Linked DNA regions of Homo sapiens. The protein of the gene in region 4 interacts with the protein of the main gene of each other region in a biochemical or structural test. Each region holds a gene or a part of one and is shown on either strand. Other genes may lie near its edges.

Region 1 (3,500 bases), on a different chromosome or scaffold from region 4:
CTTATTGACTTGACATTTACTGAATATTAACTACAGGCTATAGTAATGTACTAAAACTATGAATACTGCAGAACATAAAAAGCAGCCCTTACCACAAGCACTGTATATGAAATAACTAGGAAGCCCTTCAAATACTTTTTTTTTTTTTTTTTTGGTGATAGTCTAGCACTGTCGCCCAGGCTGGACAGTGGTGCGACCTCGGCTCACTGCAACCTCCACCTCCCAGGTTCAAGCAATTCTCCCTGCCTCAGCCTCTCAAGTAGCTGGGATTACAGGTGCCCATCACCATGCCGGGCTAATTTTTGTATTTTTTAGTAGAGACGCGGTTTCGCCACGTTGGCTAGGCTGGTCTTGAACTCCTGACCTCAGGTGATCTGCCCACCTCAGCCTCCCAAAGTGCTAGGATTACAGGCATGAGCCACCGTGCCTGGCCCCCTTCAAAGACATTTCATCAAGACCTGTAGTGATTATCCCTCTGTAAAGCTCCCTGCCTGCTTCTGACTCTCATGGTATGTACTACACTCTGAGATGTCTTATAGTCATTTGTGTATGTGTCTGATTTTTCCCAAAGATTCTTTTAATTTTTTAGAGACAGAGTCTTGCTCTGTGGCCCAGGCTGGACTGCAGTGGTATGGTCATAGCTCATTATAACCTCTAACTCCTGGGCTCAAGTGATCCTCCAGCCTCAGCAACCTGAGTAGCTGGCACTACAGGTGTACATTACCACGCCCAGCTAATTTTTTAAATTTTTTGTAGAGACAAGGTCTCACTATGTTGCCCAGGCTGATCTGGAACCCCTAGCATCAAGCAATCCTCTTGCCTTTGCCTCCCAAAGCTCTGAGATTACAGGTGTGAGCCACCGTGCCCAGACTCCCCAAAGGCTCTTGAAAACACAGACCACAACATACATCCAGCCCTCCACATCCACCGGTTCTGCATGCATGGATTCAACCAAGTATGGATCAGAAATATTTTAAAGACATAAAAATGAAAAATATCACAATTAAAAGTACCAGTAAAAAAAATAAAATATAACTATTTACAAAACATTTACAGTGCATTAGGTATTATAAGTAATCCAGAGATGATTTAAAGTATACAGGAGGATGTGCATTGGTTAAATTCAAATCCTATGTCATTTTATACATAAGGAACTTAAGCATCTGTGGATTTTGGTACCTGAGGTAAGTCCTCGGAACCACTGCCACATGGATACCAAGGGACAAGACAACTGTATTTACCTTTGGTTTTCTTTAAAGCCTAAACTCTGGAGTAAGTATTAAATAAATGCATTTGGAATGAACAGAGTGAGACTAACCAAATAGGTAAGTCATAGGGAAAGCTTTGGTAGGTTAGAATGAGTAAGGAAAACAGAACATATTAAATCTATTAAAAGACATCCATGTATAAGGTTATTCACTGCAGTACTATTTATAAAAGCAAGAAAGTAGAAATAACCTAAATGCCTATTAAGAATGGATGCCTAAACAAAGTGGGACCATTCATAATGAATACAATACAGTTGCCCAAAAAGAAAGAAAAGGGAAGAAAGAAGGAAAGGGAAAGGAAGGGAAGAGGGAAAGGAGAGGAAGGGGGACAGGAAGGAAAGGGAGGGAAGGAAGGAAGAAAAGCAAGAAAGAAAAAGACTAAAGAAGCTCCTAGTTATCTACTGATATAAAACACTACCCAAGGTAACAAAAAGATCAGCGTATGAAATAGCATGTATAGTAGTCCACCATTTATGTTTTTTTTTTTTTTTTTTTTTGAGACAAGAGTTTTGCTCTTCTTGCCCAGGCTGGAGTGCAATGGCATGATCTCGGCTCACCGCAACCTCCGCCTCCCGAGTTCAAGCGATTCTCCTGCCTCAGCCTCCCGAGTAGCTGGAATTACAGGCATGCAACCACCATGCCCGGCTAATTTTTTGTATTTTTAGTAGAGACGGAGTTTCTCTATGTTGGCCAGGCTGATCTCAAACTCCTGACCTTGGGTGATCTGCCTGCCTCAGCCTCCCAAAGTGCTGGGATTACAGACACGAGCCACCATGCCCAGCCTATGTGTTTGTTTGTTTTTTTTTAATGGGGGAAAAACATATTTACGGCTATATATGCATAAAGCAGCTCTAGAAGGATACATAAGGAACTAATAACACTGGGGGGCTGGAGAATAAGGGTGGAAGAAACTCTTCATATGTCTTTTTGTATCTTTAAAACCATGTGGATATGTTAAAATATATTGTACATATAAGAAAACTTTTTGAAAATCACTCAAAAGAACTGGACCAAAGACTAGATTTTTAAAAAATCACCAACTTCACCTACCTTTAATGGAATAGGGCTGTATCACACTAACTCCATAAAAACCTAGTTTCATAAATTTCATAAGCTTTACACTTAAACTACATAAAACTTTGCAAATTATCACTTAATGATCAGCATGGGACCACAAATCAATCCTCTAATATATGCTTTGCTTGTATTTAGTAATTTAAACATATTTTACAGCTGGGTGCAGTGGCTCACAAGGCAGGAGGATCCTTTCAGCCCAGGAGTTTCAGACCAGTGTGGGCAAGATGACAAGACCCCATCTCCACAAAAAATTGAGACCTTGTCTCAAAAAAAATTTTTTTAATTAAAAAATAAAATATTTTACCTCCTTTAGAGTCATTCTTTCCACTTCCATTTGATGGTGCTGACTCTTTATTATTGGTGGCCATATTGTCTACATCATTTTCTTCTAAAATCAAAGGATCTGGCTATTGAAAAAGAAAAATTATAAATTCTCAAACCAAGCCACTGTATAAGGTTTCATAGCAATATATGATTATACCTTTAGCTTAAGAGGGGGTAAATGTATCATCCATATCTCCTACCTCATCATCCTTTGTTGAAGACACAGCTGAGAGTAGTCGACTATTACAGAGCCGGCCATCTTGCACTGCGCTGATATCCAAGCTCATTTTGGGATTATAAGTATGTGGATAAAGAGATTCAGGAAGATGTTTACACTCTTGGGCACACTGCAATACAATGGTGTGCTTTAAGACAGGACTGACAAAATCTTAATGAATAGATGATGTTAAGTAGGATAAGGACAAGCAATACATTATACTGTAATATGGCAAAAAGTTCACAAAACTGGTTTGAAAAGTAGTTTACACTGAAAAATTTGCATCATACAAATGACAGATTGTCCTCATGTTTTAAATGTCATATCCACTGAAGTATAAAATCTGAAACCATTCCTGTGCTTTTGCAAAGGTATCAATTACCCTCCAGAGAATACCCAGGAAAAAAAAGAAACACAGATCTAAACTCTATTGATATGTTAAATTTTCCCCAAATAATTATAAACTTTCCATTCATATCACATTTTTAATTAGTACAAGGAAATGGAGAATTAGAAAGAGTATCCATTAAAGATTTGTTAAGTATTTAAGGACTAAAGATGTTAAGTTTTTGATGCCAAAGATCTGAAATGTGTACAGTTAACCAAGACTATTA
Region 2 (3,500 bases), on a different chromosome or scaffold from region 4:
CTTAAAAGATGCTCTTTCGCAAATTTCAGGTATAAGGTCCAGTATTATTAGCTATAGTCACCATGTGCTGTACATTAGATCCTCAGAAAGTTTGTGTTCTTTAACCAACATCTTCCCATTTCACCTACCCCCTTATCCCTGGCAACCAGCATTCTACTCTCTGTTTCTGTGAGTTTGGTTACCATACAGTATAGTTGTCCCTTGGTATGCTCGGAGGACTGGTTCTAGGACCCCCATGTATACCAAAATTCGCACATACTGAAGTCCAGAAGTTGACTCTGCAGAACCTGTGCATCCAAAATTCAGCCCTCCAAATATGTGGGTTTCACATCTGCAAATGTGATCTGCATTTGGTTGAGAAAAATCTGGGTGTAAATGGACATGTGCAGTTCAAACCTGTGTTGTTCAAGGGCCAGTTGTATTTGTCTTTCTCTGGCATATTTCACTTGGCATAATGCCTTCCAGGTTCATTCATGTTGCAGATGGTAGGATTTTATTTTATTTTATTTATTTTGAGATGGAGTCTCACTCTGTTGTCCAGGTTGGAGTGCAGTGGCACCATCTAGGCTCACTGCAATCTCCACCTCCTGGCTTCAAGCGATTCTCCTGCCTCAGCCTCTTGAGTAGCTGACATTATAGGCACCTGCCATCATGTCCGGCTAATTACTCTGTTTTTGTAGAGACGGGGTTTCACCATGTTGGCCAGGCTGGTCTCAGACTCCTGATCTCAAGTGATCCACCCGGAGTGGATGGGATTATAGGCGTGAACCACCACGCCCAGCCAGGCTCATCCCCCATTCATCCCTTAGTAGACACTTAAGTTGTTTCCATATAGCTGCTTGAACATGGGAGTAGAGATATCTCTGAGATACTGATTTCATTTCCTTCAGATATGTACACAGAAGTGGGATTGCTAGATCATATGCTAATTCTATTTTTAGTTTTTTGAGCAACCTCTATACTGTTTTCCATAATGACAGTAGTAAATTACCAACAATGGTCAAGGGTTCCCTTTTCTTCACATCTTTGCCAACTTTTGTTATTTCTTGTCTCCGATGATAATAAGGCATCATTACAGGTGGGAGGTGATATTTCATTTTGGTTTTAATTTGCATTTCCCTGATGATCAGTGACATTGAACACCTTTTCATGTACCTGTTGGCCATTTGTATATCTTTGGGAAAATTTCTGTTCAGGTCCTTTGCCCGTTTTCTAACCTGAATTATTTGGGTTTTTTTTTTTTTTTTTTTTTGCTATTGAGTTGTATAAGTTCCTTAAATATTTTAGATATTAACTCCTTATCAAATGTATAATTTGCAAATATTTTCTCCCATTCTGTAGGTTGCCTTTTTATTTTGTCGATTGTTTCCTTTGCTGAGCAGAAGCTTTTTAGCTTGTTGTAGTCGCAGTTTATTTTTGTTTTGGTTGCCTGTGCTTTTGGTGTCATACCCAAAACATTATTGCCAAGACCAGTGCCAAGGAGCTTTTTAGCCTACGTTTTCTTTAAGGAATTTTATGGTTTCTGGATTTATGTTTAGTCTTTAATCCATTTCTAGTTAATTTTTGTAGGTGGTATAAGATAGAGGTCTGGTTTTATTGTTTTACATAAAAACGGTGTTGGATATCCAGTTTTCCCAACACCGTTTGTTAAAGAGACTTATCATTTCAACATTGTGTGTTCTTTGTGCCCTTGTCAAAGATTAATTGATTGTATATGTGGCTTTATTTCTGGGCTCTCTGTTCTGTTGGTGTATGTCTTTGTTTTTATGCTAGTATCATATTGTTTTGATTACTGTAGCTTTGTAATATAGCTTGAAATTAGGAAGTATGATGCCTCCAGTTGTTTTTTTTGTTTGTTTTTTCTCAAGATTGCTTAGGCTATTCTGGGCCTTAAGTTCCGTACAAATTTTATGATTGGTTTTTCTATTTCTGTGATAAAAAAGTCATTGGAATTTTGGTAGGGATTATATTGAATCTGTAGAATGTTATGGGTAGTATGAACATTTTAACAATATTCTTATAATTTAAGAACACGAGATTGTTTAAAAATTTATTTCTGTCATTTTCAGTTTCCTTTATCAGTGTCATATGTTTTTCATTGTGTTTCTCTTTTACCTCCTTGGTTAAATTTATTCCTAAGTATTTTATTGTTTTGGTGCTGTTGTACATGGGATTACTTTCTTAAGTTCTCTTTCAGATAGTTCATTGTTAGTACTGACTTTTGTAAGTTGGTTTTGTATCCTACAACTTCTGGATGGTTTATTAGTTTTAACTGTTTTTGGTGGCATCTTTAGGGTTTTCTATATATATAAGATTATGTCATCTGCAAACAGAGAGTTTGACTTCTTCCAGTCTGATTTGGATGCCTTTTTCTTTTTCTTGCTTAATTGCTCTGGCTAACCCTTCCAGTATTATATTGAATAGACGTGGCAAGAGTAAGCACCCTTGTCTCGTTCCTCATGTTAGTGGAAAAGCTGAAAGCTTTTTTTTTTTTTTTTTTGAGATGGAATTTTGCTCTGTTGCCCAGGCTAGAATGCAGTGGCGCAATCTGAGCTCACTGCAACCTCCACCTCCTGGGTTCAAGTGATTCTCCTGCCCCAGCCTCCCGAGTAGCTGGGATTACAGGTGCGTGCCACTGCACCCAGCTCATTTTTGTAATTTCTTAGTAGAGATGGCGTTTCACCATGTTGGCCAGGCTGGTCTCCAACTCCTGACCTCGTGATCCACCTGCCTCAGCCTCCCAAATTGCTGGGATTAGAGGCGTGAGCCACTGCACCCGGCCAGCTTTCAGGTTTTCATTATCGAGTATGATGTTAACTGTGCACTTGCCATTTATGGTCCTTATGTTGAGGTATATTCCTTCTATAGCTAAATTGGTGAGAATTTTTATCCTGAAAGGGTGTTGAATTTTGTCAAATGCTTTTTCTGTGTCTGTTGAGATGTTTATATTATTATTATTATTATTAATTTTTTTTTTTTTTTTGAGATGGAGTGTTGCTCTGTCACCCAGGCTGGAGTGCAGTGATGCAATCTCAGTTCACTGCAACCTCTGCCTCCTGGGTTCAAGTGATTCTCCTGCCTCAGCCTCCCGAGTAGGTGGGACCACAGGTGCATGCCACCACACCCAGCTAATTTTTGTATTTTTAGTAGAGATGGGGTTTCACCAGGCTGGTCTCAAACTCCTGACCTCAGGTGATCCACCCATCTTGGCCTCCCAAACTGCTGGGATTACAGGCGTGAGCCACTGCACCTGGCTGGTTATATGATTTTTATCCTTCATTTTGTCAATGTGTGGTATCACATTTATTGATTTGCATATGTCATACCATCCTTGCATCTCAGGGATAAATCTCACTTGATATATGATTCTTCTAGTAGGCTGCTGAATTCGGTTTGCTAGTATTTGTTGAGGATTTTTGCATCTGTGCTCATCAGGGCTATTGGCATATAATTTTCTTTTCTTGTGTTGTCCTGGTCTGGCTTTGGTATCAGAGTAATGC
Region 3 (3,500 bases), on a different chromosome or scaffold from region 4:
TGTGGTGAGGATTAAATGAGTTAGTCAAGTGCACAGAAGAGTTCTTGGTACATAAATGTTCTACTTAAGTAGCTCCTGATATAAAGAAGGTGAGCTGGGTACAGTGGCTCACGCCTGTAATCCCAGCACTTTGGGAGGCCGAGGCAGGCGGATCACCTGAGGTCAGGAGTTCAAGACCAACCCGACCAACATGGTGAAACCCCATCTCTACTAAAAACACAAAATTAGCCGGGCGTGTGGTAGCGCATGCCTCTAATCCCAACTACTTGGGAGGAGAACTGCTTGAACACGGGAGACTGCAGTGAGCCGAGATCATGCCATTGCACTCCAGCCTGGGCAATGAGGGAGGGAGGGAGGATAGGAGGGAGGGAGGGAGGGTGGGAGGAAGGAAGGACGGACAGATGAACGGAAGGAAGGACAGACAGAAGGATGGACGAAGGAAGGAAGGAAGAACGGACGGGAAGGATGGACAGAAGGAAGGACTAACAGAAGGAAGGATGAATGGAAGGAAGGACAAACGGAAGGGAGGGAGGGAGGGGAGGGGGGGAGGGAAAAAGTCATATAAACATATTCTACGCTATTATAAACCTGTTTCTTTTTTTAATTATCTTTGCAACACATCATACTATCCCACAGAAAGCTTTTGAAAGAAAAGTTTTTAAGGACCAGGCATGGTAGCTCATGCCTGTAATCCTAATGCTTTGAGAGGCAGAGGAGGAAGGATCACTTGAGGCCAGGAGTTTGTGACCAGCCTGGGCAACAAAGTGAATCCCGTTTCTACAAAAAAAAATTTAAAAATTTGCCAAGCATGGTGTGCGCCTCTGGTCCTAACTACTCAGGAAGCTGAAGTGGAAGGACTGCTTGTCCCCAGGAGTTGAAGGCTGCAGTGAGCTGAAACTGCACCACTGCACTCTAGCCTGAGCTACAGCAAGACACCCGTCTCTAAAAAATAAAAAGAAAAGCTTTTAAGCAGAGTGCCTTTGATTTTGCTTTAAGAAGAGCAACTCAAGAACAAAGAGATTTGTATATTAAATTTTCATGTTTCATTTAATTGCAAATTGTCTTGTATTCTACTTTAACAGAATTTCACAGCTAATTAGGTAAGACTGAGTTAACTGCTAAAGCCACGAGATATGGGATAGACACAAAATTGAAGAGCTTGACTCCATGTTTCTTCCAACTGTTTACTCTGGCTGCCTTGACTGCTGATGTGGGGTCTAATTCAATTCTCTGGCTAGGGATTTAATATTTTTCCTCTCCTCTTTCCCTCACTTATGAAAGGACACATCTGATGCAACTGAAATCTCTCTCTCTCCTCCTCTGATTCTAAACTAGAGGAGGAAACAGACAGTATGAGAATATATATGACAAAGAAATTTTCCTGAGAGTAATAAGGATTTAAATTTTATGTGAACACTTTTATATACACACCCTTTTGGGTAAACTATATCGACATATCACCGTTATGGCATGGCTGTTACTACAAGAATGAACCAATCATTCTGAGCCCCCAAATTCCATCTTACATGGTATGTTACACTTCTACCAAACTATACATTTGAATTTATTAAATGTGAAATCAATTAAATTTGAAAGATCAAAACTGTAATCAAAAAATATAAGGATAAAGGACCATTTCATAAATTAATTGATGCTAACCCTTGCAACATTAAAAACACATTCCACCAAAAAGTCTAAGTTGAACTCTACCTTTGTCTTAATTTTTCACATAAATTAGAAGTAGAGTTTAGCATTACTTCTGGGTTTGTTTTTGATTTTTTGAGACAGAGTCCCACTCTGTCACCCAGGCTGGAGTGCAGTGGCACATTCTCGGCTCATTGCAACCTCTGCCTCCTGAGTTCAAGCGATTCTCATGCCCCAACCTCCCAAGTAGCTGGGACTACATGTGCACACCACTATGCCCAGCTAATTTTTGTATTTTTAGTAGAGACAGGGTTTCACCATGTTGGCCAGGCTGGTCTCAAACTGCTGCCCTCAAGCGATCCACCTACCTCGGCCTCCCAAAGTGCTGAGATTACAGGCACGAGCCACCAACATTACTTGCGTTTTGACAACCCTCCACCCCCCATCAAAATGTCAGATTCACCAGTCTCAATGAACAATGCCACCTAAAAAAACAGTTCAGCCAGATGTGGAGGCTCGTGCCTGTAATCCTAGCTACTCAAGGGGCTGAGGCAGGAGGATCACTTGAGCCCAGGAGTTCGAATCCAGCCTGGGCAACACAACAAGACCTCATCTCTACTAAAAATAAAGAATTTCTGGCCAGGCATGGGGGCTCATGCCTGTAATCCCAGCACTTTAGAAGGCAGAGACAGGCGGATCACCTGAGCTGAGGAGTTCGAGACCAGCCTGGCCAACATGGTGAAACCCGGTCTATACTAAAAATACAAAAACTAGCCAGGCATGTTGGTGGACGCCTGTGATCCCAGCTACTCAGAAGGCTGAGGCAGAAGAATCGCTTGAACCCGGGAGGCGGAGGTTGCAGTGAGCCAAGATATGCGACTGCACTCCAGCCTGGGCAACAAGAGGGAAACTCCATCTCAATAAACAAACAAACAAACAATTTCTAAAATTAGCTCTTCACCACTCTTTCAAACAGAAGCAGAGTTAAGATTACTAGCGTCTATTATACAGACCCACAACCCATGACATTATATATAGAAATGTTCTCCAAAAACCATCACCAACTTACTTGGAATTAGTGCTACTGGTCTTACTTTGAGGGAAGACCCAATAACAATGAGGAGGTCAACTTCATCTTTGTCATACTTCATGGCTCTATGAAACTGTTCTGGTAAATTTTCACCAAAAAACACAATCTCTGGTTTCATGATAGCAAGCGGTTCATCAGCTGGGCACCTAGGACATCGAGGAACTACCTACATATTTTCAGATTTTGGTTGAGGTAGAGAAGCAAAGAGTAAGCCCAAGTTAGAAATAGTCAACATTTCCATACCTCTAAGAATACATTTCAGAATTATTAAAAAAAAAACAAAACAGAAAAGCTATGGATAAACAGCAACTGTCAATGATGGGTAGTTTATTAACATACTATGAAACAATGAAATACTATGCTCTTGTTATAATATCTATGTAGAAAAACACTTGACATTGAAGAGTCCATCATATATTAAGAGGAAAAACATAATGTGTGTATATACACTAAATGGGAATTGATCCTTTCAAAAAAAAATAGACATTTGTCAAATAAAATGATTCCATTTTATTTATTTGAGATGGAGTCTTGTTCTGTTGCCCAGCCTGGAGTGAAGTGGCATGATCTCAGCTCACTACAACCTCCACCTCCCGAGTTCAAATAATTCTCCTGCCTCAGCCTCCCAAGCAGCTGAGATTAAAGGCATATGCCACCATGCCAGGCTAATTTTTGTATTTTTAAGAGAGACGGGGTTTTGCCATGTTGGCCAGGCTGGTCTCACTTCTGACCTCAAATGATCGACCCACCTCGTCCTCCCAAAGTG
Region 4 (3,500 bases):
AGCCGAGTGGCTCAGCAGCTCCAGGAAGCGCTTGGTGGTCAGATTCAGTGAGGTCTCATAGCGTGACTTCTCCCCCGGGGATTTCACACCTGTGGGGGTGTGGTCAGGCAAGACAGGGCCCTTCAGCATCCACCCCCACCTCCAGCCAGGCCTGCCACTCTGGCAGTGCAGGGCAGCAGGATGATGGGGGCTGGGGGACAGCCAGCTCCTTCCCCTTGGCGAGGCCAACCACAGCATTCTTCTTCTGGCTGGGGAACTCCTCACCCCTCAGGGCCTGGAGAAACCAAGCCAGGTGGCCACTCCAACTGCCCATCAGGGTCCTCAGAGGCCTGGCTCAAGCCCGACAAGCCAGACGTTAGCTTGCAAGCATGTTTGTCTGTTCACATCCCTAACCTGGGCCTGGTCACAGGGGGTCTGCCCAGCCCAAGCTCCATAGGTACCTTTTCCTGGATGGCGGCCTCTGCCCCGAGCTGGCCCACTGCTCTCGGCCAGGTACTGATGGTCAGTTTCCAGGTCCAGCCTCCGCTTCACCTGTGGCGAAAACGGGAGGATGCCCAGTAACCAGGAGTGAGGCCAGAAGAGACCTGGCTTAAGGCTGGGTGCCTCTGGGCTACCCTCGCCTCAGTTTCTCTAGCAGGATGCCTGAGTGTGTGACTGAGGGAGATCAGAGGGGACATAGCCTGAGAGTCACAGTCCTACCACACAGGACATTCCATTTTCACCACTTCTCTGGGGTCTAGCGGTGGATTTAAAACACATCCGCAAACTTTCTGATCCTTCTCCTTCAAAAGATATAGCCTAATTCTCCCCTTATGAGCCAGACCTGGTAACTTGCTTCTGGGGATGAATGAATGGAATGTGGTGGAAGGGATGGCCTGTCACTTTTGAGACTGGGTCAGAGGCGCTGGAGCTTCCTCCTTGCTCTGTATTGGGTCACTTACTCTGCCATATCATATGGGCACTCAAGTAGCCCTAATGATGGGCAAGAAACCATGGCCTCCTCCCAACAGCAACACTTAGTCACAACTTCTGTTAGCAGCCAGAACCCAAACACTGGCTGAATCTCCAGAGACCCCAAGCCAGAGCTGGATAAGTCTTCCCTGAATTCCTGACCCACAAAAACTATATAATAAATGTTTGTTGTTTTAAGGCACTATTTTTTTTTCTTTTTTAGACAGGGTATCGCTCTGTTGACTATGCTGGAGTGCAGTGGTATGATCACAACTCTCTGCAGCCTAGACTTCCTGGGCTCAAGCAATCCTCCCACCTCAGCCTTCCAAACAGCTGGGACCACAGGCGCATCCCTCCAAGACCAGCTAACTTTTCTATTTCTCGTAGAGATGGGGTCTCCCTATGTTGCCCAGACTGGTCTCAAACTCCTAGGCTCAAGCAATTCTCCCATCTCAGCCTTCACTGTAGTCGTGCTGGGACTAGTCAGCCACCATGCCCAGCTAAGCCACTGATTACATAGGTCCCTTGGCTAAATCACCTTCTCTCTGGTTTTTGACTAATCTATACGCATGGTAGCAGCTGGTGCTCATCAAGTTCCTTGCATCCATTAGTTCATTCCATTCAACGGACTGGCTGTATAAAAATGGCCCCATTTTCCAGATAAGGCAACTAAAGCCCAGGGAGGCCCAGGAAGTGGTAGAGTCAGGATTTGTACCCAAGACGGTCTGAGGAAGAACCCAAGCTCTAAGCACTCTGGCTTAGTTCAGACACTCCAGGATTGGGACTGTCCTGGAGGTCTCACAGGCTGCTCAAAAGTACCCGGACCAAAACCAGACTGATCTTCCCCTCCACCATCCACAGGGTTTCCTGAGCTAGAGTTCCTGACCTGTCACCCTCCTCACATGCAGCTACCAAGAACTGCTCATCACCACGGCGATCACCACCTTCCCAGTGGGCTGCTGAGCAGACTCCACACTGGTCTCCCTGCCTCTGCTGCAGCCAGTCCTCCTACAAACCTTACCATGCCGCCGCCCCTGCTTAAGGCCTTCCTCCAGCTCCCCATTGCCTTTGTACTCTCATCTGCCACTGCTTCTCTAGAGGAACCCGAGTCACGTTTTCCCAGAAATCTAGACTGCCCTTGCATCCCTCCCACCCTCCCCACTTCACGCCTGCTCCCTCTACCTCTGTGGGCAGAAACCTTACGCATCAGCTAGGAGGTGTCACCTCTTCTCCCTCTGAACTGCCTCAAACCCAACCTTTTGCCACATTCTGTCTCTCCCTACACATTTCTGCAGATGTATCTATCTCACCCTCAGAGGTGTCTGAATCACTTGAGAATCTATAGTGTCTGCCATGGAGCCTGGCATCAACAAATGTTTGCTGAATGAACCCCCCCCATGCTGATGAACCACTCCCTCTTGTGCACATTCACTGACTTTTGAAGGCACCCAGGGGAAAGAAGAGCTGTTGTGCTCTAAGCACTGTGTACTCAACTGCTTCCCCTGCAACCCTCCGGCCACCTTTTGGCAGGTGCTATGATGGCCTCCACCTGAGAGAGGCCACACAGTGAGAGGTGGACCCAGGACTTGCACCCTAGTTGGCTGGTACAGAGCCCACACTCATACCCGCCACGTGCCCCACCTCCCCAGAACCCAGCCAGAATGTATCCCCCTCCATACTCGCCCCTGGGGCCCAAACCCTAGCATGCTTCTGCCATCTGCACCCCTTGCCTTCTCCCTGGGATCCCCACCCTTGTCCACCCCTGAAGGCAGGTCAGTGCCACGCCCTAAAACAAAGGCTTGAGTGGATGCCATTTCTGCCACTTCTCCCTAGATAAACACTGGCAGAGGGGCCCCGAAACGCAGGGGTGAAGACATTCACTGCTGAAAAAATCTGGATGACTCGAACACCCATCCATGAAGGGGGTCACGAAAGCTGTGCTTTGTTTAGCCCCTTGAACACCACGCAGCTGTCAAGGACCGAGGCAGGTTGACAAGAATCCCCTCACACATACAGACAAGCAAAACACTGTCACAGGGCGATATATTTATATGATCCCTTTTGGATTAAAAAGCTCATGAAACTTTTCTCTGGTTCAGTTTATATTATTATAGAATACATTTCGGGGCAGCCTCTGGAAGGACTGTGGGAGACCAGTGCCATATCTGAATGGTGTGAATGATACAGGAAAAACTACAATTTTTAAAACTTTAAAAAACAAAAACTGTCACAACCACCACAAACAAAAATAGCCTTAGGGAAAAAAAGGAAAAAAATGAATAGGGCTGGGATCCTGCCGTCAACTTTCTAGTTTCTTAAGAGTTAAGTTTTTGGCCAGGCGCAGTGGCTCACGCCTGTAATCCTGGCACTTTGGGAGGCCGAGGCGGGCAGATCACTTGAGGTCAGGAGTTCAAGACCAGCCTGACCAATATGGTGAAACCTCATCTCTACCAAAAATACAAAAATTAGCCGGGTATGGTGGTGCACGTCTGTAGTCCCAGCTACTCGGGAGGCTGAGGCAGAAGAATCGCTTGAACCCAGGAGGTAGA
Region 5 (3,050 bases), on a different chromosome or scaffold from region 4:
TGTTCTCTAACTATAAAATGAGAATGATGCTAGCGTCATCTTCATAGAGTGATTATGGAGATAAATAAGTTAATGCATGTAAACCACTTTCCATAATGCCTGGCACATATTATATTATGTATTAGTAAATGTAAGCACTGGAAGAATCAGTAGTCTTCCTACACTTGAAAATAGTTGTCTTCAACTATTGTTGTATTAATGAGTTAATTCACCTTGTTAAGTCACCTTGATCCACCTAATTGTCAGCCAACATTTATTAACGAAACTGCTAGTATTCGTATTGTGCCTTTTTTATTATGAAACATTTCAAGAATACAGAAAAATGCAGAAAACAATGTAACAAATACCTAAGTATCTATCACCCAACTTTTATAGTCTTATTTTTACCTATATATTTTTTCTTTTAGAAAGGAATGATCACAGTTGTGCCTGAAATCTGTATAGCCCTGTCTCATTTCATTTGTCTCCCTTTACCCACATAAGTAATTGCAGCTCTGAATTTGATGTTTATCAGAATGATACCATGAGTGGTTTTATATCCTTATTATATGTATGCATACCTAGGATTGTTTTTCTGATTTTGAAACTTCATATAAATGGTATCATTCTGTACAAAACCTTCTGGGACTTGTTTTACCACTCATGTTTTTGAGATGTATCCACACTACCATCTTTCTCTAAATCATTCATTTAAATGCTGTAGTTCATTGAATAAGTTTATCACAATGTATCCATTTTCTTCTTGATGAGCATCTCAGTTATTTCCAATTTTTGACTTATAAACAATGCTGCAATGAAATAATTGACATATTTCCTTGTGTACATGTGAGCATTTCTTGAGATATGTATCTAGAACTTGAATCACTGGCCAACAGGATATTCTTAATCTTCAGTTTCACCAGATACTTCCAAATTGATCTCCATAACATGCATACCAAATTATATTCCTACCAGCCATTTATAGGAGTTCACATTTTTTCCATACCCTCCCAATCCTGCCTTGGCAGATATGTTTTTTCCAATGAATAACAATGAAATTTTGTTTTGGGATTTGACAAAATGATTCTAGATTCATCTGGAAGAAAAGCAAGTATAAGTAAGAAATTTAAAAGGGACCTGAAAAACTAAGCAATGGATATATTTAAAAATTGGTACCAGTAGGGATAACCAAATATTTGTTAACTGTAGCAGAAACAATGCATGTTTTTCTCACTGGTTCCACCTTCTATCTCTCAGTCAAGCCCTGCCCAGGTGTGGTAGTCCTCATAGTCTCTCACTGTAGGGGTCTTCTCACATAGTAGACCACTCTCTTGAGTTGAATATTGAAAAGAAGGCTTGGCCGGGGGCAGTGGCTCATGCCTGTGGTCCCAGCACTTTGGGAAGCTGAGTCGAGCGGATTGCTTGAGGTCAGCAGTTCGAGAGCAGCCTGACTAACATGGTGATGAAAAGTACAAAATTAGCTGGGGGTGGTGGCGCATGCCTGCAATCCCAGCTACTCGGGAGGCTGAGGCACGAGAATCGCTTGAACGCAGGAGGCATAGGTTGCAGTGAGCCGAGATTGCACCACTGCACTCCAGCCTGGGCGACAGAGCAAGATTTCGTCTCAAAAAAAAAAAAAAAAAAAAAAAAGGCTTAAGTCCAACTAACTGTTTCCCTGCTGTTCATTTTATCCAACGGCTGGGGATATAGGCTACTGCACATGATGGGTTGATGGATGTGAAATGATAACTCATGACTTTAATTCTAATTTTTCTATATTCTGGTGAGGTTGAGCATATTTTTACAAGTTCATAATCCATTTTCCTCTGATGGGAGTTGCCTGTTTGAATCCTTTGCCCACTTGCTTTTTGGGGTTATTTGCAATTTTTTGCATTGATCTTCAAACATTCTTAATTAATCCCAGGTACATATTATTTTATATATAAGATATATTTTAGAGATATATAGGCTGATAGTATCTTTTCTCAGTCTAAGGCTTATCTTTTAATTTTGTTTATGGTGTTTTGTGTGTGTTGTTTTGCAGAAGTTTTATTGTATCTGAATTGTGGCTTTTGTGTCTTAAGAAATTCTTTACCTACTGTCATAAAAATTTTTGTCTAAAAATTTTATGATTTTGCCTTTCTATTTATCTTGTTAATTCACTTTGAAATTACTTTTGTTTATGGCATAAAGTCCATTATTTTCCATATGGATAATCAGTTGTCTTAGCAGTTTATTGAATGGTCCAACGTTTCCCTGCTGATTATAATGCCCTCTCTGTTATTTATCCTAAATTCTTGACATCCGGTAAGGAAGTCTCCTCTGCCCACCCTTCTCTGTATTTCAAAATGGTTTTGACTGTTCTTGACCCCTTGCTCTTTCTGTGAACTTTAGGATTAAATGATTATGTAGAATTAAACAATCGGGTTAAGGTTTTTTATTAGAATTACATTGAATCTATAGATTAATTTGGGGAAAGAATGTTATCTTTCTATCCATGATAATTCTGTATCTCTCCATTAATTCAAGTCTTTAATGGTTTTTAAAAATAAATTATTGTCTCTTTGAAAATCCTTACACATCCTTTATTGCACTGATTCGTATGTAGTTTATGTTTTTGTTGTTGCTTTGGAGAATAGGCTTCTTAAAATTAAATGTTTAAATTGATCAATGCTGGAGTATATAAATGCTATTGATATTTGTAAAATGATTTTGTCTAATAATCTTACATAATTCTTTTGCTGTTCTAATAGTTTGCCTGTAGATCCTATACGATTTTCTGTGGAGACAGTCATATTGTCCTCAAAGAAGAAAATGTTTGTCTCTTCATTTCCAAGTCTTGTGCCTCTACTTTTAATCAACAGCTTAATGTTAAACAGAAGTGGTGGTGCCAGACATCTCTGTCCTGCTTCTGACTACTATTTACTTTTCTTTCTCACATGTAACTATAACATTATTCAGTTCTTATAACATGGTAAGATAGGTGGAATAGGCATTATCTCCATTTCTAGTTAAAGCTGAGTGGGCCAGAGTATCACTCCAAAACACACAGCTAGTAGATGTCAGAATAT
Region 6 (3,500 bases), on a different chromosome or scaffold from region 4:
GATGAGAGGATTTTTATGACATGTCATTGTCCTTTCTTCCTAGTGGATGCTGGGCACAGAGCTGTCATCTTTGACCGATTCCGTGGAGTGCAGGACATTGTGGTAGGGGAAGGGACTCATTTTCTCATCCCGTGGGTACAGAAACCAATTATCTTTGACTGCCGTTCTCGACCACGTAATGTGCCAGTCATCACTGGTAGCAAAGGTGAGTCTTGCCTATGGTTCAGGTAAAGTAGGGAGTGTGGAAGAGGTGCTCTGTTCTTCTGTGTCACAGGAGCATCTGTGGGATACCAGGATCCAAAAGAGTTTGAACTGTACATCATAGGAATGACTAGACTACTTGCCCTGGAGAGCTTGATATGGAATCTTAGAAATACCCACTTATGGCTGGGTGCGGTGGTTCATGCCTGTAATCCCAGCACTTTGGGAGGCTGAGGCAGGTGGATCACCTGAGGTCAGGAGTTCAAGACCAGCCTGGCCAATGTGGTGAAACCCCATCTCTCCTAAAAATACAAAAATTAGCCGGTGGTGGGGGGTGCCTGTAATCCCAGCTACTTGAGAGGCTGAGGCAGGAGAATTGCTTGAGCCTGGGGGGCGGAGGTTGCAGTGAGCTAAGATTGTGCCACTTCACTGCAGCCTGGGCAACAGAGTGAGACTCTGTCTCAAAAAAAAAAAAAAAAAAAGCCTGCTTCTAATCTTCCCATCTCTTTGGAATTTCTTTCCGTACTGTTTTGCAGTTGTTTTCAGGATACATTATGTACCTATTTCTAAAACTATTGATAGGAGCTTCCAGAGATCAGGGAGTTGTAGGTATTAATACATTGCCCACCTCTCTTGGTGCCCAGTTCAGGGCTGTCTCATGGGCGCTTGGTCCATATTGTTGACATCTGTAAGCAAGCCGTGACAGTGCTTTGGCTCCAGGCAGGCCTGAATTGTCCAGGGGAAAGTATAATTCTCTCCCTGGATCCTTTAAATGGTCCAAGTAATGAGAAGCAGAACATAGGATCAGTCTGTTAACCCCTTATATGTGTTACACATTTGACAGAGTGCTTTTACGTCTGTTTTCTCCTTCAATTTTCCCCAACATTTCCGCAAGGCCCAGAAAGCAAATGAAATTGTCCCCATTCTCATAGACAGGGAAATAAGCTCAGGTTGGCTAAGGCTTAGAGAGGCCACATCATTAGTAAATAGCCCAGATCTTTGGACTGATAGTCTAACACCGTTTCCACCAGACCCGAACTAACCTCTCCAAGGCTGACTCCTGACTTGGCCACAATCACCAGAGCATGTAAAGGCCTCACCCTACAATTCTTAGCATTGCCCTGTCTATTGTCTTAAAATGTTCAGTGTTGCAAACTTTGCATGGCACCTGTTAGACATATAATCTGAATTATGTATATCTGAGGGCATTCAGGGGATACCAAAAAGCTGCTATCACTGAAGCCTCTTAAGAAATTATAAACTCTTTATGATGCTCTATTGGGTTCTCTGCCAAGGAAACCAGGCATACCTGCACCTTGCCCTCTGGGATCTTATAATCAGCAGATTTGCTTATAAATTGTAGCAAATTTGGAGCCAGGCACAGTGGTGCGTGTCAGCTACTCAAGAGGCTGAGGCAGGAGAAATGCTTAAGCTCAGGAGCTTGAGTCTAGCCTGGGCCACATAGCAAGACCTTGTCTCTAAAAATAAAAAATAAAAATTGCCAGGCGTAATGGCTCACACCTGTAATTCTAGCATTTTGGGAGGCTGAGGCAGTTGGATCACTTGAGCCCAGGAGTTTGAGACCAGCCTGGGAAATATGGCGAAACCCCAGCTCTACAAAAAGTACAGAGATTAGCTGGGCGTGGTGGTCTGTGCCTGTGTAGTCCCAGCTACTTGGAAGGTGTAGGTGGGAGGATCAACTGAGCCCAGGAGGTCAAAGCGGCTACAGTGAGCTGTGATCTTACCACTGCACTTCAGCCTGGGCAACATGTGACCCTGTCTCAAAATACATAAATAAAAATTGTAGCAAATTGGAGTAGGAGAGGTCATATAAAAGACCACTTGTGGCCAGGTGCGGTGGCTCACACCTGTAATCCCAGCACTTTGGGAGGCTGAGGCAGGTAGATCACCTGAGGTCAGGAGTTTGAGACCAGCCTAACATGGTGACACCCTGTCTCTACTAAAAATACAAAACAGCTGGGTGTGGCGGCGCGTGCCTGTAATCCCAGCTACTCAGGAGGCTGAGGCAGGAGAATTGCTTGAATCTGGGAGGCAGAGGTTGTAGTGAGCCGAGATTGTCCCATTGTACTCCAGCCTAGGCAACAAGAGCAAAAACCTGTCTCAAAAAAAAAAAAAAACAAAAAAAAAACACTTGTTTTCCTACAGTGGTTTTTATTTTTAACTCCAGTGTTTGTCCCCTACCCTAAGATTTACAGAATGTCAACATCACACTGCGCATCCTCTTCCGGCCTGTCGCCAGCCAGCTTCCTCGCATCTTCACCAGCATCGGAGAGGACTATGATGAGCGTGTGCTGCCGTCCATCACAACTGAGATCCTCAAGTCAGTGGTGGTGAGTGAACAGGGGCCTTTAGCCTCGAGCCCAGAGCACCACCCTGGGAGGGTGCCAGGTGGCAGGAAGCGCTTGGCAGTGGGTTGGTTGGGATGTGGCTGCTAGTTTCCTGGTTCCTTTTCTGCTTCCTCATTAACCTGACCTGCCCTTCTGCTCCTCCCTTTGAAACCAGGCTCGCTTTGATGCTGGAGAACTAATCACCCAGAGAGAGCTGGTCTCCAGGCAGGTGAGCGACGACCTTACAGAGCGAGCCGCCACCTTTGGGCTCATCCTGGATGACGTGTCCTTGGTAAGATCCTTCGGGAGACCGAGGAGGGGAAGGGGCTGCAGTTCTCGTTTAGGTGCCTGGCTCCATTTCTGGGTAGACGCTATTAGGTCCTCCCTTCTGCTTTGCTAGATGTGAGACTTGAAAACACGGAAACATGCTGAGGTGAGGCAGTCTCCGTGGGTTTTTCAGTTGAGGGTTCTTTTACCTTCCCCCTGCCACACACATTTTTCTTATGACCTCTGGTTGTATCCAGATAGTCTCTAACCACTAAATGTTTTACCTTCTCCAAACTGTTACCCAGAGAGTGATGCCTTGTTAACCCTGTTTGACACAGGCAGAAACTGCCTGGTAGAGACCAGAGAACAGCTCGGGTAGTCCTTCTCCCTAGCACAGACCTCCCAGCCTGACTCCTGGGAGCTTCCTAACACTTTACAGTCCGAAGCTCAGTGAAGTAAGCTCTGGGAACCCCAGTGAAAGGTGATAGAGTGTAAACGAACGGTTGGATTCCCCCAGGCCTGGTATAGGGGGCAAGGGACATCTCTGAGGCGTAAGCTATCCTCTTGAGACACTATAGCTTGTGTGTTTATATGACATTGGATGTCATAACTCAGAAAGCAATGCAGGCAGGATAGCGTTTCAGGTTGAGGAGGGTGAGGGGAAGGGGTCGTGTTTCTAGATTC
Region 7 (3,500 bases), on a different chromosome or scaffold from region 4:
TTCTGAACACTGTGTTGCATAATATCACCAAGACAAAAAATATGTTCACAGGTACACTTTTTGTTATTTTCTTTCTAGAGCACATCTTTGAGGTCATAAGACCGCATCTGGTTAAAATAAAGTCTCTTGCCCTTGCTTCCCTTCCCCCTCAAAGTGATTCAACCCTGAATTCCAAAAAGGAATATTCAATATAACAACTTGAAAACCAGTTGTAACACTTAGACCATAAGGAAACTATATGAACATTATGGAAAACTACATGAAAGAGGGAGCTGCCACTTGCCACCCACTTCACTTCCAGCTTTTTAAGCATGTACCCAGCTAGACTCCTATCTCACTGACTTCAGTGAAACAAACTAACACACCAAATCTAGGCCATCTCAGGCTGGAAGTTAAAACTCGAAGACATCATTTCATATACACATACATATATATTCCCTATCCTAAGCTTTAACTTTGTCTATTTAAACAGTTTAATAAAGCTCACATTTACAAAGGATTTTATTGGCAAATAAAGGCCCATATTAAAAATTTTATCAGAACAAATTTTTGTTTTATACAGCTAACATTAAGAAATATTTTCTTGGCCTTATAAAATATTTTTAATTGCATATAATTTTTGCTTTGGGTGGAATATTGAAAACACAATTCTGCAAGAAATTAGAAAAGACTAGAAACAAAAGTGAAAGTGACTAGCCTTAACTTTCAAAAAATCAAGTGCAAAGATAAATAGTGCAAATAATGAAAACTAGAAATTTTACAGGCAACTTTAGTCTTTCCTGCTTTTGCACTTTTACACATTGACAACTTTATAAACCCTAACAACTATATGCAGCATGGAAATGGGCTATCATTTATCTCCACTGACTAGACTTAAGCCTTTCAAGGACTTGTCTCACAGTCATTTAAATCACAAGTTCTTGACACAGGTTTGGGAATTCACTTCTTTTTAAACAAATTTCTAAGGGAGGGGCTATTTAAGAAGGCTTTGCATTGACTTAAATGAGTTATAGTATATAACTATTATAATTTAAAATCTGACACAATAAAATGTGAAAATTATACTAAAGTGCCAACTCTACAAAATAAGCTATAGTAAAAATAATCCTGCTATTGTTAATGAACCTGACATTCGTAAAAAAGAAAAATTACCTTCAAAGTACAAAATCAGAACCACTTTTTTGCTATTTTTAAAAGAGATTTTTATCACTAATATATAGAGATGTGAGTAAAATGAAACTTCAAAGTAATCTGTCCAAATCACCAGGAATAAATCCATACTAAATTTGACAACAAAGAGTTAATCCAAACATACTTGAATTATGTAACTTAAAAACAAACATTACAGTAATTATTTATCTTAAATAATTTAAAACACTACTGGAATAATGGGAACAGAAATCTAAACACTATCAGCTTACCCTACAAAGGATATAAGAACCTCCAAAATGTACTAACTTATTTTATTAACATTTGCCACCACTGAACTCTTGGGAATACTACAATTTTAAAGTAAGAGAGAAAGTAGGGAAACAGAAACATGAGTTTGGGGGGTATGTTGTCTAATTTTAGAAATACAGTATTATTGAGGGCCTCATAAGGTCTACAAGGTTAAATGGTTGCTACGGATGCAAATGTAAAAGAAATAAAAAAGACACCTAAAATTGCAAGTTAGTGTTTTTACCTGGTTTATTGTCTTCTAAGAAATTTGTGTGGGCCAAAGTCTCAAAATTCTATAAAAGCAAGGAATAATATGTGTCTTTGTGGAGTACAAAATCAAATAATTTGATCTAAGGACCATTTGAAAAGTAAAGGTAAACTACATTGTAACAAGAGCCCAAGAAAATAGATAGTATGTGTGATAAATATTTCTGATAGTTTAAAAAGAATAATGGTGAAAAGCTTGAAATTTTCTTTTCCTCAAAATAATAACTCCCCAGCATCCACTTGCCTTGACCAGAAAAGCTGTCATTCCACAATTGTGCTAATTTGTCCCAGAAAAGCAGACATCCTATACATGAAAACAGACTTGTATAATGCATGATCATTATCATAACTCTAGCTATAGTAACTAACAGCTTTCTCATAATCAATGAGGGACCCATTTTCTCTGGCTTTATTGAAACTTCCTTAGTGAAGATCAACTTCATTTCCTTAGCAAATAACTCTCATTCGGACTCCATCATAGTACCTTTTCCTACCTCTAGTAAAAATTCCTCTCACTTTATTTCCAAACCATTCTCTATATACCTCTCAAACCCCCATCCACAAACACATTAAACAGCTCTCCTCGTCCTACTCTCCAATTTCCAAACCAGTAAGTCTCAGTTCCCAGTAACTTACCTAAAATACACATACTTCTTACTCTCTTCAGTTCACAAGTTTCTTAACATTAATTTAGATACCTTCAAACTGCCAGCTTAAGACTATGGGGAAAATAGCAATCAGAAAAAAACTGCCCAGTTACCTCATAATACTGAAATTGTTCTGGATCATCAGTTAGCTATGTTCTAAGGCAGGAGTCAGAAATTTCTTTACTTCTCTCTGAAGAAGTAAGCTTGAGTGCCACTGGTAGGCCTACAGCAAGAGTAAAAGTGGAGAGAGAAACAAAGAAAAAGGATAGGAGAGAGAAGATGCCAGATGTACATGGTAAGGAGGTAGGTCAAGTACCACCACCAACTACCTGCATTTAAAATTGCCAATCCACTCCAGCTGAATGGGAGTTTGACCCAAACTCAACATGTGTCTGATAAGTCATTAGCTGATGGCTATCATTGTTTGAGCTAGTCAAGATGAATAGGTAATTCACCTGTCCCATAACTTTAACTGCCACTTCACGATAAGGACATATTTTCTTAAATCCTCCTAGGATCCTTCTGTGTTAATAATCTACCTTAGACCAAAACACACACTAACAAGAGTATTTCCATGTTTTTCACAATTCTAAAATAGAAGGACTTGGTCCTTGAACTTGGAGGCCTCTTGAATTATTAAAGTGGAACCAAAATCAAGAAAATTAAACTCTTTAGCTTAAACATTTTTCCATCTAATGCTACAAAATAAGCTAATTGCTAATAATTATCAAAACAATGTGTGTATTTATGAAAACATGAAAATCCTGTGATTCCAAAATGAGTGAAATACTTCTGATGTGTAAGAAGCAACTATATTTTACATAGAGGATCACCACCATGTTTCTGCCTATCAACAGGACAATCTTCCACAAAAGCAAAGGACATCAGGAAGGAAAAACACAAAACAAAACAAATACCAAACGTGGGGACAAAATAAAAATGAATGAGTAGTTATGACATTCTTGTTAAGAAAAATGTTAACAAGTGACCTTTGCCACACTCAGCTTTCCTAAAGACATAAATTGCCTGGACCATTCAACATCAAAACTTGGTAGTTAGCTTAGCAGATTCATTGGCTTGAAACCAATCATTATTTCTTATTTCATCTGGTTGTTCTTTTATCATGAAATTCTACCTGACTCATGC

The links.
Region 1: the proteins of E2F1 (region 4) and TOPBP1 form a complex in vitro, tested with the Homo sapiens proteins (4 studies listed by BioGRID and IntAct).
Region 2: the proteins of E2F1 (region 4) and BIRC2 form a complex in vitro, tested with the Homo sapiens proteins (2 studies listed by BioGRID, with this or other methods).
Region 3: the proteins of E2F1 (region 4) and SIRT1 form a complex in vitro, tested with the Homo sapiens proteins (one study listed by BioGRID and IntAct).
Region 5: the proteins of E2F1 (region 4) and SP3 form a complex in vitro, tested with the Homo sapiens proteins (one study listed by BioGRID).
Region 6: the proteins of E2F1 (region 4) and PHB1 form a complex in vitro, tested with the Homo sapiens proteins (2 studies listed by BioGRID).
Region 7: the proteins of E2F1 (region 4) and PURA form a complex in vitro, tested with the Homo sapiens proteins (2 studies listed by BioGRID).

Annotation. Positions count from the first base shown.
Region 1 is NC_000003.12:133,620,442-133,623,941, forward strand, and holds part of TOPBP1 (DNA topoisomerase 2-binding protein 1), read right to left. Parts: intron 3,017-3,500; coding exon 2,870-3,016; intron 2,753-2,869; coding exon 2,650-2,752; intron 1-2,649. UniProt on the Homo sapiens protein: Scaffold protein that acts as a key protein-protein adapter in DNA replication and DNA repair. Composed of multiple BRCT domains, which specifically recognize and bind phosphorylated proteins, bringing proteins together into functional combinations.
Region 2 is NC_000011.10:102,353,714-102,357,213, forward strand, and holds part of BIRC2 (baculoviral IAP repeat-containing protein 2), read left to right. Parts: intron 1-3,500. UniProt on the Homo sapiens protein: Multi-functional protein which regulates not only caspases and apoptosis, but also modulates inflammatory signaling and immunity, mitogenic kinase signaling, and cell proliferation, as well as cell invasion and metastasis.
Region 3 is NC_000010.11:67,908,656-67,912,155, reverse strand, and holds part of SIRT1 (NAD-dependent protein deacetylase sirtuin-1), read right to left. Parts: intron 2,901-3,500; coding exon 2,714-2,900; intron 1-2,713. UniProt on the Homo sapiens protein: NAD-dependent protein deacetylase that links transcriptional regulation directly to intracellular energetics and participates in the coordination of several separated cellular functions such as cell cycle, response to DNA damage, metabolism, apoptosis and autophagy.
Region 4 is NC_000020.11:33,679,886-33,683,385, forward strand, and holds part of E2F1 (transcription factor E2F1), read right to left. Parts: intron 532-3,500; coding exon 441-531; intron 90-440; coding exon 1-89. UniProt on the Homo sapiens protein: Transcription activator that binds DNA cooperatively with DP proteins through the E2 recognition site, 5'-TTTC[CG]CGC-3' found in the promoter region of a number of genes whose products are involved in cell cycle regulation or in DNA replication.
Region 5 is NC_000002.12:173,900,275-173,903,324, reverse strand, and holds the end of SP3 (transcription factor Sp3), read left to right. Parts: 3' UTR 1-2,550; downstream 2,551-3,050. UniProt on the Homo sapiens protein: Transcriptional factor that can act as an activator or repressor depending on isoform and/or post-translational modifications. Binds to GT and GC boxes promoter elements. Competes with SP1 for the GC-box promoters.
Region 6 is NC_000017.11:49,408,383-49,411,882, reverse strand, and holds part of PHB1 (prohibitin 1), read left to right. Parts: intron 1-43; coding exon 44-205; intron 206-2,409; coding exon 2,410-2,552; intron 2,553-2,724; coding exon 2,725-2,841; intron 2,842-3,500.
Region 7 is NC_000005.10:140,120,651-140,124,150, reverse strand, and holds part of PURA (transcriptional activator protein Pur-alpha), read right to left. Parts: 3' UTR 1-3,500. UniProt on the Homo sapiens protein: This is a probable transcription activator that specifically binds the purine-rich single strand of the PUR element located upstream of the MYC gene. May play a role in the initiation of DNA replication and in recombination.